Regions from separate parts of the Homo sapiens genome. Here region 2 is linked to region 1. A link means that fine-mapping ties the variant in region 1 to the expression of a gene that starts in the linked region. Tissue or cell type: whole blood. Region 1 holds a variant in brackets; the other region holds the start of a gene. All regions are shown on one strand. Distances are between the middles of the regions. Region 1 has its middle 31 kb from the start of GTF3C6. Region 2 holds the start of GTF3C6 (general transcription factor IIIC subunit 6).

Region 1 (5,381 bases):
TTCAACCAAATTGGCCCTCACTCTGCAAAAGAATAATAGGTTTCATCATCCAAATTTTGTTTGGAACCGAGGGGATCAATTCCGATTTAAAACACAGTACAAACTGTCATGTCAGGATTAGTTAGTTCTACAAGAAATCACAAAAACCCTGCAACCTATGGGTGGAGGTTGGCCACCACCTGAACCTGTTTCAATAGAGTGTCTATTGTAAGAAGTGAAACTGCCTTAGGCATTTTTTGAAAACTTATTTAGAGAATTTTGATAGCCGAGGAGTTTTTCCCACATTCACCAAATGCCAAAATATTTTAATTCTCTTATTTCCACAAACACCAAAGTTTTAATTGGTTTCCTTCTACTGCGCATGCACACACATATACTTTTTCTTTGCTAATTTTGGTAAAAGTTAAAACTTAAAGAAAAGCACGCTGGTATGTAAAATATTTCAAACTTGTGGGATTCTTTCTCCATAAAACCTCTATTAATTCCTAGGTTTCTGATTGCTATTTTTAAAACTCATTTGCTTTTATTAAGTAAATACTTGTACAAAGTATATTCAATAATTGAATTCATAAAAACACAAATGGTACAAAAGGGTAAAGTCTCTCACCTCTATTTCCACCCAATTCCCTTCCCCAAGGGGTCCAGTTTTGCCAGTTTCTTGTATGAATTGTCAGAAAGTCTGCGCGTATACAGGCGTGTGTGTGTGTGTGTGTGTGTGTGTGTACACAGCACGTAGTCTTAGTATCTCGGTTGGTTTTTTTTTTTTTGAGACGGAGTTTCACTCTTGTTGCCCAGGCTGGAGTGCAATAGCGCAGTATCAGCTCACTGTAACCTCTGCCTCCTGGGTTCCAGCGATTCTCCTGCCTCAGCCTCCAGAGTAGCTGGGATTATAGGCACACACCACCACGCCCAGCTAATTTTTGTATTTTTAGTAGAGATGAGGTTTCTCCATGTTGGTCAGGCTGGTCTCAAACTCCTGACCTCATGATCCACCTGCCTCGGCCTCCCAAAGTTCTGGGATTACAGGCGTGAGCCACCTCACCTGGCAGTATCTCAGTTTTTTTAAAAAACAAAAAACTATAGGCCAGGCATGGTGGCTCATGCTTGTAATCCCAGCACTTTGGGAGGCTGGTGGGGGCAAATCACCTGAGCCCAGGAGTTAAAGACCAGCCTGGCCAACATGAAGAAATCCCGTTTCTACTAAAAATATCAAAATTAGCTGAGTGTGGTGGTGCATGCCTGTAATCCCAGCTACTCGGGAGGCTGAGGCATGAGAATCCCTTGAACCTGGGAGGCAGAGGTTGCAGTGAGCCAAGATCACGCCATTGCACTCCAGCCTGGGTAACAGAGTGAGACTGTCTCAAAAAACAAACAAAAAACTACACATTTTTTACATCATGAGATCTGATTATATTTAAAAAGCCCTATTTTTAAAATAGTTAACATATTCATGTGTTAAAATTCAATGTTTCCTTTGTTCCCTCCGTGCCTAGGAGGGGAAAACCTTTAGACAAATTCTAATAGAACTGTAAAGTTCAACAGGTTTCTCTTCTACGTTTCTGCTTCCATCTAGTTCTCCTAAACAACCAGTGTTTCCAGTTTGTTGTGTTTTCTATGCATATAGAGCCTGTTTTCCACTAATAACACAATCTTGCTCCATAAATGCAGGGACTCTGTCTATCTGGTTCACTGTTTCTTAACCGAATACAGTACCTAACACAGTTCCTGGCACATAGTAAATATTCATTAATCTTTTGGGGGGCTGGGAGCAGTGGCTCTCGCCTGTAATTCCAGCAGTTTGGGAGGCTGAGGTGGGCGGATTGCTCGAGTCCAGGAGTTGGAGGCCAGCCTGGGCAACATAGATCCCATCTCTGCAAAAAATAAAAATAATAGCCAGATGTGGTGGGCACCTGTCTTCCCAGCTACTTGGGAGGCTGAGGAAGGAGGATTGCTTGAGTCCAGGAGTTCGAGGCTGCAGTGAGCTGTGATCACGCCACTGAACTCCAGCCTAGGTGACAGAGCAAGACCCTGTCATAAAAAAAAATAATAAATCTTTTTGGAATGAAATAATATCCTTATCTCCCTATCCCTTACCTCCATTTCCAAATATACCTAGCAAGTCTAATTCTCTCATGTGAATTTTCTCAGCTTCATCCCTTCCTTGCTTTTTCTGTGATCACAGTCCCACTCAGTCTAATCACTACATGCCTTAGACCACTGCTACCTCCTGATGAATCTCCTATCTGTCTCCCACATAGATACATAGCTCTATGGAAAGAGAAGCCATGTCACGAGATGGTTAGAAGAGACACCAGGTTTAGACTCAGACAGCCTGAGTTCATATTCCAGGTCTGCTATTTAGAAGCAATGGGGCCTTGAGGAAGCAAGTTACCCAGGATCTGTGCCTCAGTTTCCTTGCCTGCACAACAGAGATGACAGTGTCTTCCTCATGGGGTAGTTGTAAGATTAAATGGGCTAATATGTAAAGCACTTACATATAAGACATATAAGAAATGTTCAATAAATGTCATTACTATGGCAAGAATAATCTTCCTCAAACACTGTTTGAATATGAAGCCCTTTTTCATAAACCTTGAATTGCTTTTAGCAGCTCCTCATAGAAACTGTAAATTATTTACACTGAGCCCTAAATCTCCTTATCAATTTAGCCCCTCCTCCTACTTACTCAAC[C/A]AGTTTTTTTCTTTTTTCTTTCTTTCTTTCTTTTTTTTTTTTTTTTGAGATGGCGTTTCGCTATTGTTGCCCAGGCTAGAGTGCAATGGCATGATCTCAGCTCACCACAACCTCTGCCTCCCGACTTCAAGTTATTCTCCTGCCTCCAAGCTATTCTCCTGCCTCAGCCTCCTGAGTAGCTAGGACTACAGGTGCCCACCACCATGCCCAGCTAATTTTTGTATTTGTAGTAGAGATGGGGTTTCACTATTTATATACTTTGATATATTTTCAATTGTGTGTATCCAGATTATTCCAGTAGATTATAATGTCTTCAAAATCTGCCTGTCTATTCTTTTGTTACATCTTGTACATTATATTCACAATGTACACAAATATATTTTCATTTCCTCCTTCCCTCCCTCCTTCCCTTCATTCCTTCTTTCCATTTGATCATCCTCCAAATCCCCTGGCTTCCAGGAAAATGAAGACAATAAAATACAGAAAAGGCTGCGCCTGGGTATGGTCTGAGACAGGCTGCGGGAGCCTGTACCTAGGTGAGAGCAAAGCTGTCACTCCCAAAGTGCGTTCCTTTTAGAAAATTTGTATCTGAAGTATTTTGGGGGGTTGATATAAGCAACTAGTAAACCTTTAACAGTAAATCACTTATTATTGATCATCAGGATCATCATCAAATATTTATTTAGCAACTTTGTTATGAAGGCACCATGCTTACAGGATAAAGGAGAAATTACATGCTTCTTCCTGTGCTGAACTAAAAATCTAACGTGCTGAGGTGGGAGGATCGCTTGAGCCCAGGAGTTCTAGTCCAGCCTGGGCAACATAGGGAGACACTGTCTCTGATAAATAAATAATAAGTAAATAAATAAAAATCTAGTGTGGTGATAGAGACCCCACCCAAAATACTTAGCCACCTGAATGGTACAATAAATAAGAAAACGCCATAATTAAGTGCTGTAACAACCAATTAGTACTTCATAGAGAAGGATGAACCTCATCTGACCCCTGAAGAAAGATCAAATATTTAATGAGCATGAGGAAAAGCAAATATTTTAGGTGATGGACATTATATAAGTGTTATATTATTTAATGTGAAATGCCATTTAAAAACCACGTTTCACATTTATTTACTAGACAAAGAGATCATCAAATGACATTTATTGAGTACCCACTATCTGCAAAGTATTAGACAAGGTAGAATGGGGTATAGACATGCATAGGATGTGATCCCTGCCCTCCTAGAGATTATAATATAGTAAAGAATACAACATGTAAATAGCTGACTAGTAACTTGCAGAATGAAGGAAGCTCAGAGATCTGGAACCCCAAGAGTAGCATAAAGGTTTCCTGACTGCCACAGTGTTGTGTAGTCTAGAACACAACAAATCCCTTTAACGGCAAATTCTGACAAATGTGATAATTGTGGAGACAGCAGGTGAATAACTGAGTGCCTGTGCTTTGCATTACTGAATGAATTATGCTATATTTTATTCTACCCATCCTTATCATTATTTTCATTGTAGCTAGTTGTTGTTGTTGTTGTAGTTGTTGTTTGAGACGGAGTTTCACTCCTGTTGCCCAGGCTGGAGTGCAATGGCGCAATCTCGGCTCACTGCAACCTCCGCCTCCTGCGTTCAAGCAATTCTCCTGCCTCAACCTCCTGAGTAGCTGGGATTACAGGCATGCGCCACCAAGCCCAGCTAATTTTTTGTATTTAGTAGAGATGGGGTTTGATTGAGTATCCACTATCTGCAAAGGCACCTTCGTCTCCCAAAGTGCTGGGATTACAGGCGTGACCCACCACGCCTGGTCTGTAGCTTGTTTTGGTCAGTTCCTGTCACATGAGACCTTTTTGTTTCTGAAAAAACATTATGATGTGTGGAAAGGACCTTAGTATTATCCAATCCAATTTTCTCATTTTATAAATGGGCAGCTGAGGTCTGTTAAGGAACTTGCTTAAGGTCATAAGGCTTTTTTTCTTTCATTCATTTCTTTAATAAGAAAGGTACCTATAGGCCAGACGTGATGGCTCATGCCTGTAATTTTGGCACTTTGGAAGGCTGAGCTGGGAGGATTGCTTGAGGCCAGGAGTTTGAGACCAGCCTGGCCAACATGGTGAAACACTGCCTCCACTAAAATTACAAAAATTAGCTGGGCATGGTGACGAGTGCCTGTAATCCCAACTACTTGGGAGGCTGAAGAAGGAGAATCGCTTGAACCCAGGAGGTGGAGGTTGCAGTGAGCTGAGATCTCACCACTGCACTCCAGCATGAGCAACAGAGTGAGACTCTGTCTCAAAAAAAAAAAAAAAAGAAAAACAAAAACAAAAAAAGTGAGAGAGGCATTTGTTACTTTTATATTACAACTTGTCATTTTAGACATTTCTTAAACTTCCTGTTTCATGACTAATCCAGGATGTAACATCTATGACAGAAAGTTAATGCTGACATAACTAAGTACTCTATGAAATTTCTGCTGCCCATCTCCACATCCCCATTAGTAGTATAAAACTGTCTTTCTTTCTTTTCTTTTTTTTAAGACAGAGTCTTGCTCTGTTGCCAGGCTGGAGTGCAGTGGTGAGATCTCGGCTCACTGCAACCTACTCCTCCCGTGTTCAAGCAATTCTCCTGCCTCAGCCTCCTAAGTAGATAGGATTACAGGCATGCACCACCACACTCGGCTAATTTTTG
Region 2 (5,381 bases), 31 kb after region 1:
AAAAAAAAAAAAAAAAAGGAAAAAAAAAAGCTCCCTTTTAACTGTGTATTCTTTTGTAAATCATTAAAAGTAAATAAAAATAATTACTTCATAAATACCAAACAATAACTTTTGCTAGAAGTATGAGGCTTGTTTATTTTAAAGGGACATCTTGAGTTATAACACACTAACCTTTCAAAACACACATATTTTCATTCCTCAAGCCTTTGTTTCTGCTGTTCCCTCAGCTTGGATTATCCACTCCTCCTTACTCTCCCCACATCTCCCTCAAAATCTGACAATTTATGTAATTTTTCAGTTTACCAAGTATTTTTAGATATACGATTGAATTTTTGCTTTCCAAGCAAAAAAGACACAGTAAGTATTATTATTATTTTTTGAGACGGAGTCTTGCTCTGTCGGCCAGGCTGGAGTGCAGTGGCACAATCTTGGCTCACTGCAAGCTCCGCCTCCCGGGTTCACGCCATTCTCCTGCCTCAGCCTCCGGAGTAGCTGGGACTACAGGTGCACACCACCATGCCCAGCTAATTTTTTTGTGTTTTTAGTAGGGACAGGGTTTCATCGTGTTAGCCAGAATGGTCTCAATCTCCTGACCTTGTGATCCGCCCGCCTCAGCATCCTAAAGTGCTGGGATTACAGGCTTGAGACACCGCACCCGGTGTTAAGTATAATTATTTTCATCCTCATATAATAAATAAGAAAACTGAGGTTGGAAAACTTCACAATTATTAAGCTTCAGAGCTAGAATTGAAATGTACTTCTAACAGGTCCAGTGTTCCTTCTACTTTTTTAAGCTATGAAATCCTATACATTTAATTAGGCAACTGGACAAAAATATACACAAAAGAGTGTTATTTACAATATCCACAAATTGTAAATAACCTATGTGTTAAAAAATAGAGGATCAAGTTATGGCACACTCATACAACCATTATGTAAAGACAGGCGCTGTGGCGTGCACCTGTAGTCCCAGTTACTCAGGAAGCAGAGGTAGGAGGCTCCCTTTGAGCCCAGGAGTTTGAGGGTACAGGGAGCTACGATGGCGCCACTGCACTCCAGGCTGGGCGACAGAGCCAGACCCTGTCACAAAAAAGAAAGGAAAGAAAGAGAGAAAGAAAGAAACAAACAATGAATAAAAGAAAGAGAGAAAGAGCATCATACTAAAAAATTTATATATTACTACTAATAATAGATTAAATGCACTTTAAATGCTTACTATGTGCTGAATACTGGGCTAAATTTATTTTATATGTATTGTCTCATTTAATCCTCACAACCACCAATCTGCCCAAAGCCTTGCTGTTAATAATGCAGCAGAACTTGACTGGTATTAAAATCCAAAGCTCAGGCTGGGGACGGTGGCTCACACCTGTAATCCCAGCATTTTGGGAGGCCCAGGCAGGGGGATCGCCTGAGGTCGGGAGTTCGAGACCAGCCTGACCAACATGGAGAAACCCCGTCTCTACTAAAAATAACAGAATTCGCCGGGCGTGGTGGCGCATGCCTATAATCCCAGCTACTCGGGAGGCTGAGGCAGGAGAATCGCTTGAACCCGGGAGGTGGAGGCTGCAGTGAGCCGAGATTGCACCATTGCACTCCAGCCTGGGTAACAAGAGCAAAACTCCATCTCCAAATAAATAAATAAATAAAAATCCAAAACTCACGATCTTAACCACTAGATCACGCTATCGCAAGTACGAAGACCGTTTCTTTCACAATCACAAACATCTATGGGATACTTCTGAAAATTCTGTTCAAACTTCTCTTGCCCAGGTCTCTGTGTTCCTATAACAATGTGTATCTCTTACAGCACTTGCTTGGATCCATTTATGTACCTCTCACAGATCTTATGCTCCTGCAGGCCTGAAACTTAAGCCCACTTTCTATTTTTCATAGCTCCTGGTGCAGTGCTTTTTACTGTGTAGGCGCTCATTAGTATTAAACTGAATGTGCCTTTAACTTGGCTTGGGGTACGTTGAATTGAGGATGAGCGCTCACACAATATTAAGAATTTCTTTCCAAGAAATGTGCTCGGGTCAAACACAAGGCCTTTCTGTCCATGATCCGCCTGAAACCATGGTTTCCTTGTTTTCGCCTTTATCCCTTCTGCCTTGCCAGTCCTCCCCGCCAGCGGGGCCGAGAGCCCGGCGACTCTTGCGTGACCGAGCGGGCTCCGCTGCCTACGGCAGCCCACCCCCAGCCCCTGCTCTGAGGCACCGAGAAACGAGGAGGCCCGTGGCGAGTCTCCACGTGGGTACCGGCGCTCTCGGCGCCCGTAGCCACCCGCCCGCCGGAAGCCGACATCTCGAGTTCTGGCAGAAGCAATTTGCGCGGCGAGGAGCGGAGCGGCAGGAACCCAATAAGCTGCTTCGCCTCGGAGCTGAAGCCCGTACTCAAGATGGCGGCTCCGGGCGGGCGTGGCCAGTGACTAGAAGGCGAGGCGCCGCGGGACCATGGCGGCGGCGGCGGACGAGCGGAGTCCAGAGGACGGAGAAGACGAGGAAGAGGAGGTAGTAAGCGCTACGCCAAAAGCCTGCACCGCAGTGGCGGTGATGCCTGTGCTGGCTGTGTGTGGGGAAGGGAGTTGGGGAGCTGCGGGCCGGAGGGAGGCCCCACTGCTCCTCACCGGCTTCTTGCTCCTGGGCGCGAGGAGCCGGGCAGCTTGGGACCTTAGCCCTAATCGTCACCCCGTACTTGGGATGGGAAGTACCGGGAAGTTACCTTAGGTAGCGTAGTTTCCTCTTGCTGAAAACAGGGTCCGGTTTTCACAAATGTGGGAAATTTGGCTTCTTTTGCTAATTGCTCCCTCTTGGCCGCTCGCGTGCTAGCATGTTAACCCCTCTTTCTTTCACCAGGAGCAGTTGGTTCTGGTGGAATTATCAGGAATTATTGATTCAGACTTCCTCTCAAAATGTGAAAATAAATGCAAGGTTTTGGTGAGTTTTCTAGACTTGGGGGGATTGTTCTAGAGTGTCTTAAATGTAAAACAAGAATCAATGGTGAAATACCTATCCGCAAGTATTGATATATTTATTTCACCTTACAAAGTAGTGAACTCTAAGGATAAGAAGTATACTAAGTATAATTAATTAATATGTAATTAAGTATAATGTAGAAGTACAGCGGGGACTATGGGAGCAGATAGGAGAAAATGGCTAACTTTGCTTGCCTGTTTGAATGTGTGGCTGAAGAGAAAGTTACAGATTTGGAGGAAGTAACATTGTGATATGGAACCGTACATATATTCCTGTATTCTCAGCACTTTGGGAGGCAGAGGTGGGAGGATCACTTGAGCCCAGGAATTGGAGACCATCCTAGGCAACATAACGAGACCCCTTCTCTAAAATAATAATAAAAAAAAATGGCCAGGCGCGGTGGCTCACGCCTGTAATCCCAATACTGGGAGGCCGAGGCGGGTAGATCACGAGCCCAGGAGTTCGAGACCAGCCTGGCCAACATGGTGTAACCCCGTCTCTACTGAAATACAAAAATTAGCCAGGCATGGTGGTGGGCGCCTGTAATCCCAGCTACTCGGGAGGCCGAGACAGGAGAATCGCGTGATCCCTGGAGGCAGAGGTTGCAGTGAGCCGAGATCGCGCCACTGTACTCCAGCCTGGGCAACAAAGGGCAAAACTCCATCTCAATAAAAAAAAAAAATAATAATAATAATAAATTAGCTGGGGATGGTGGCATGCGCCTGTGGTCCCTGCTGCTCAGGAGGCTGAGGTGGGAGGATTGCCTGAACATGATCATGCCACTGCATTCCAGCCTGGGTGACAGAGCTAGACACTGTCTCAAAAAATAAATAGATGACAGATAGACTCTTTGCACTACTGTTGACAAAACTTCCTCTGTTTTTAGCTTACTCTTGAACAGGATGTTGATTGAAATAAACCTTGTTACTTGAGTATGAATTAAGTAGTCTTCAGGTTGTAACTGCTGTGATCAGAGCAGTTGTAGTTTATCCTGTACTTGGTAGGACAAGATGCTCTAGAGGTTCCCCAGTTTTGGAGATTAGTTTCCTTGGTAGCAAGGTTACAATGTTGAAGCCTTTTTCTAATTATGTTTTTTTTTTATGATCCTTTATTCTGTTGTAGGGCATTGACACTGAGAGGCCCATTCTGCAAGTGGACAGCTGTGTCTTTGCTGGGGAGTATGAAGGTAGGAGGATGTCAGATAGATGGAACTCTTTCTGATATGGGCTTTTCAGAGATGGTAGCTCTTCTCAACAATTTGCCTTTGTATTTTTCTGCAGACACTCTAGGGACCTGTGTTATATTTGAAGAAAATGTTGAACATGGTAAGTGATTGCTAGCCCAGCCCTTTTTAATACGAACTATTTCAATCATACTTAAGCATAATAAATATCTCATGTATCCACTGTCTAGCTGTATCATATCCTATCATTTTCCCAAACGTGACTCAGATTATAGTTAAAAAAAAAAAATGCCAGGCTGGGCCAGGTGGCTCAATCCTGTAATCCCAGCACTTTGGGAGGCCAAGGCAGGCAGGTTACTTGAGGCCAGGAGTTCGAGACCAGCCTGGCCAACATGGCAAAACCTCATTTATACTAAAAATACAAAAATTAGCTGGGTATGGTGGCATGTGCCTCCCAGCTACTCGGGAGACTGAGGCACGAGAATTGCTTGAACCTGGGAGGTGGAGGTTGCAGTGAGCCGAGATCGCACCAGTGCACTTCAGCCTGGGCAACAGAGCTAGATAAACTGTGTCTCAAAAACAAACAAAAGAACCCATTCCAGATACATTTGAAGTCCTTCTATCCCCCTTTCCAAACTTACTTCTTTCCCTCTGTCTTCAGAGATGATCACTCTCCTGAATTCTTTTTTTTTTTGAGACAGAGTCTCACTCTGTCACCCAGGCTGGAGTGCAGTGGTGCAATCTTGGCTCACTGCAACCTCCACCTCCCAGGTTCAAGCAGTTCTCCTGCCTCAGCCTCCCGAGTAGCTGGGATTACAGGCGCCTGCCACCACGCCTAGGTAATTTTTCTATTTTTGGTAGAGACAGGGTTTCGCCATGTTGGCCAGGCTGATCTCAAACTCCTGACCTCAAGTGATCTGCCTGCCTCGGCCTCTCAAAGTGCTGGGATTACAGGTGTGAGCCACCACTCCTGGCCAAGGAATAAAAGAAGGGCTACTTCATAGGCAGAGCAGCCTACTTTCTAAAGTATGGTATCAATTTATACTCACAGTAGCAATGTATGGAAGTGTCTGTGCTTCATATCCTTGGCTCAAGGGCCTTATCCTCCGTCCTGCCTAGGCATACAGTTTTCTGAAAGTTTCAACTCCAGGCAGCAGGTTGGCAGCAATTTTTTTCCTCAGGCTTTCATGATTGAGAATGTCCCTACTCCATACTTTGGCTTC

What was found. PIP is the estimated chance that this variant, and not a neighbour inherited with it, causes the effect. A credible set is the group of variants that fine-mapping cannot tell apart.
Region 2: GTF3C6 starts here. The variant in region 1 is the best candidate, but not a certain one, in a credible set for the expression of GTF3C6 in whole blood (INTERVAL, PIP 0.76).

What each region holds. Positions count from the first base shown.
Region 1 is chr6:110,925,093-110,930,473 of GRCh38, forward strand. No RefSeq gene overlaps it. Among named protein-coding and RNA genes, the nearest start is that of GTF3C6, 31 kb to the right of the region's middle. The variant C/A (reference allele first, on the strand shown) is at 2,692.
Region 2 is chr6:110,956,317-110,961,697 of GRCh38, forward strand. GTF3C6 (general transcription factor IIIC subunit 6) reads left to right here and starts at 2,390. Exons shown (of 6, transcript NM_138408.4): 1 at 2,390-2,510; 2 at 2,856-2,936; 3 at 4,098-4,161; 4 at 4,256-4,300. The coding sequence starts at 2,454. RefSeq lists an enhancer at 2,263-2,712.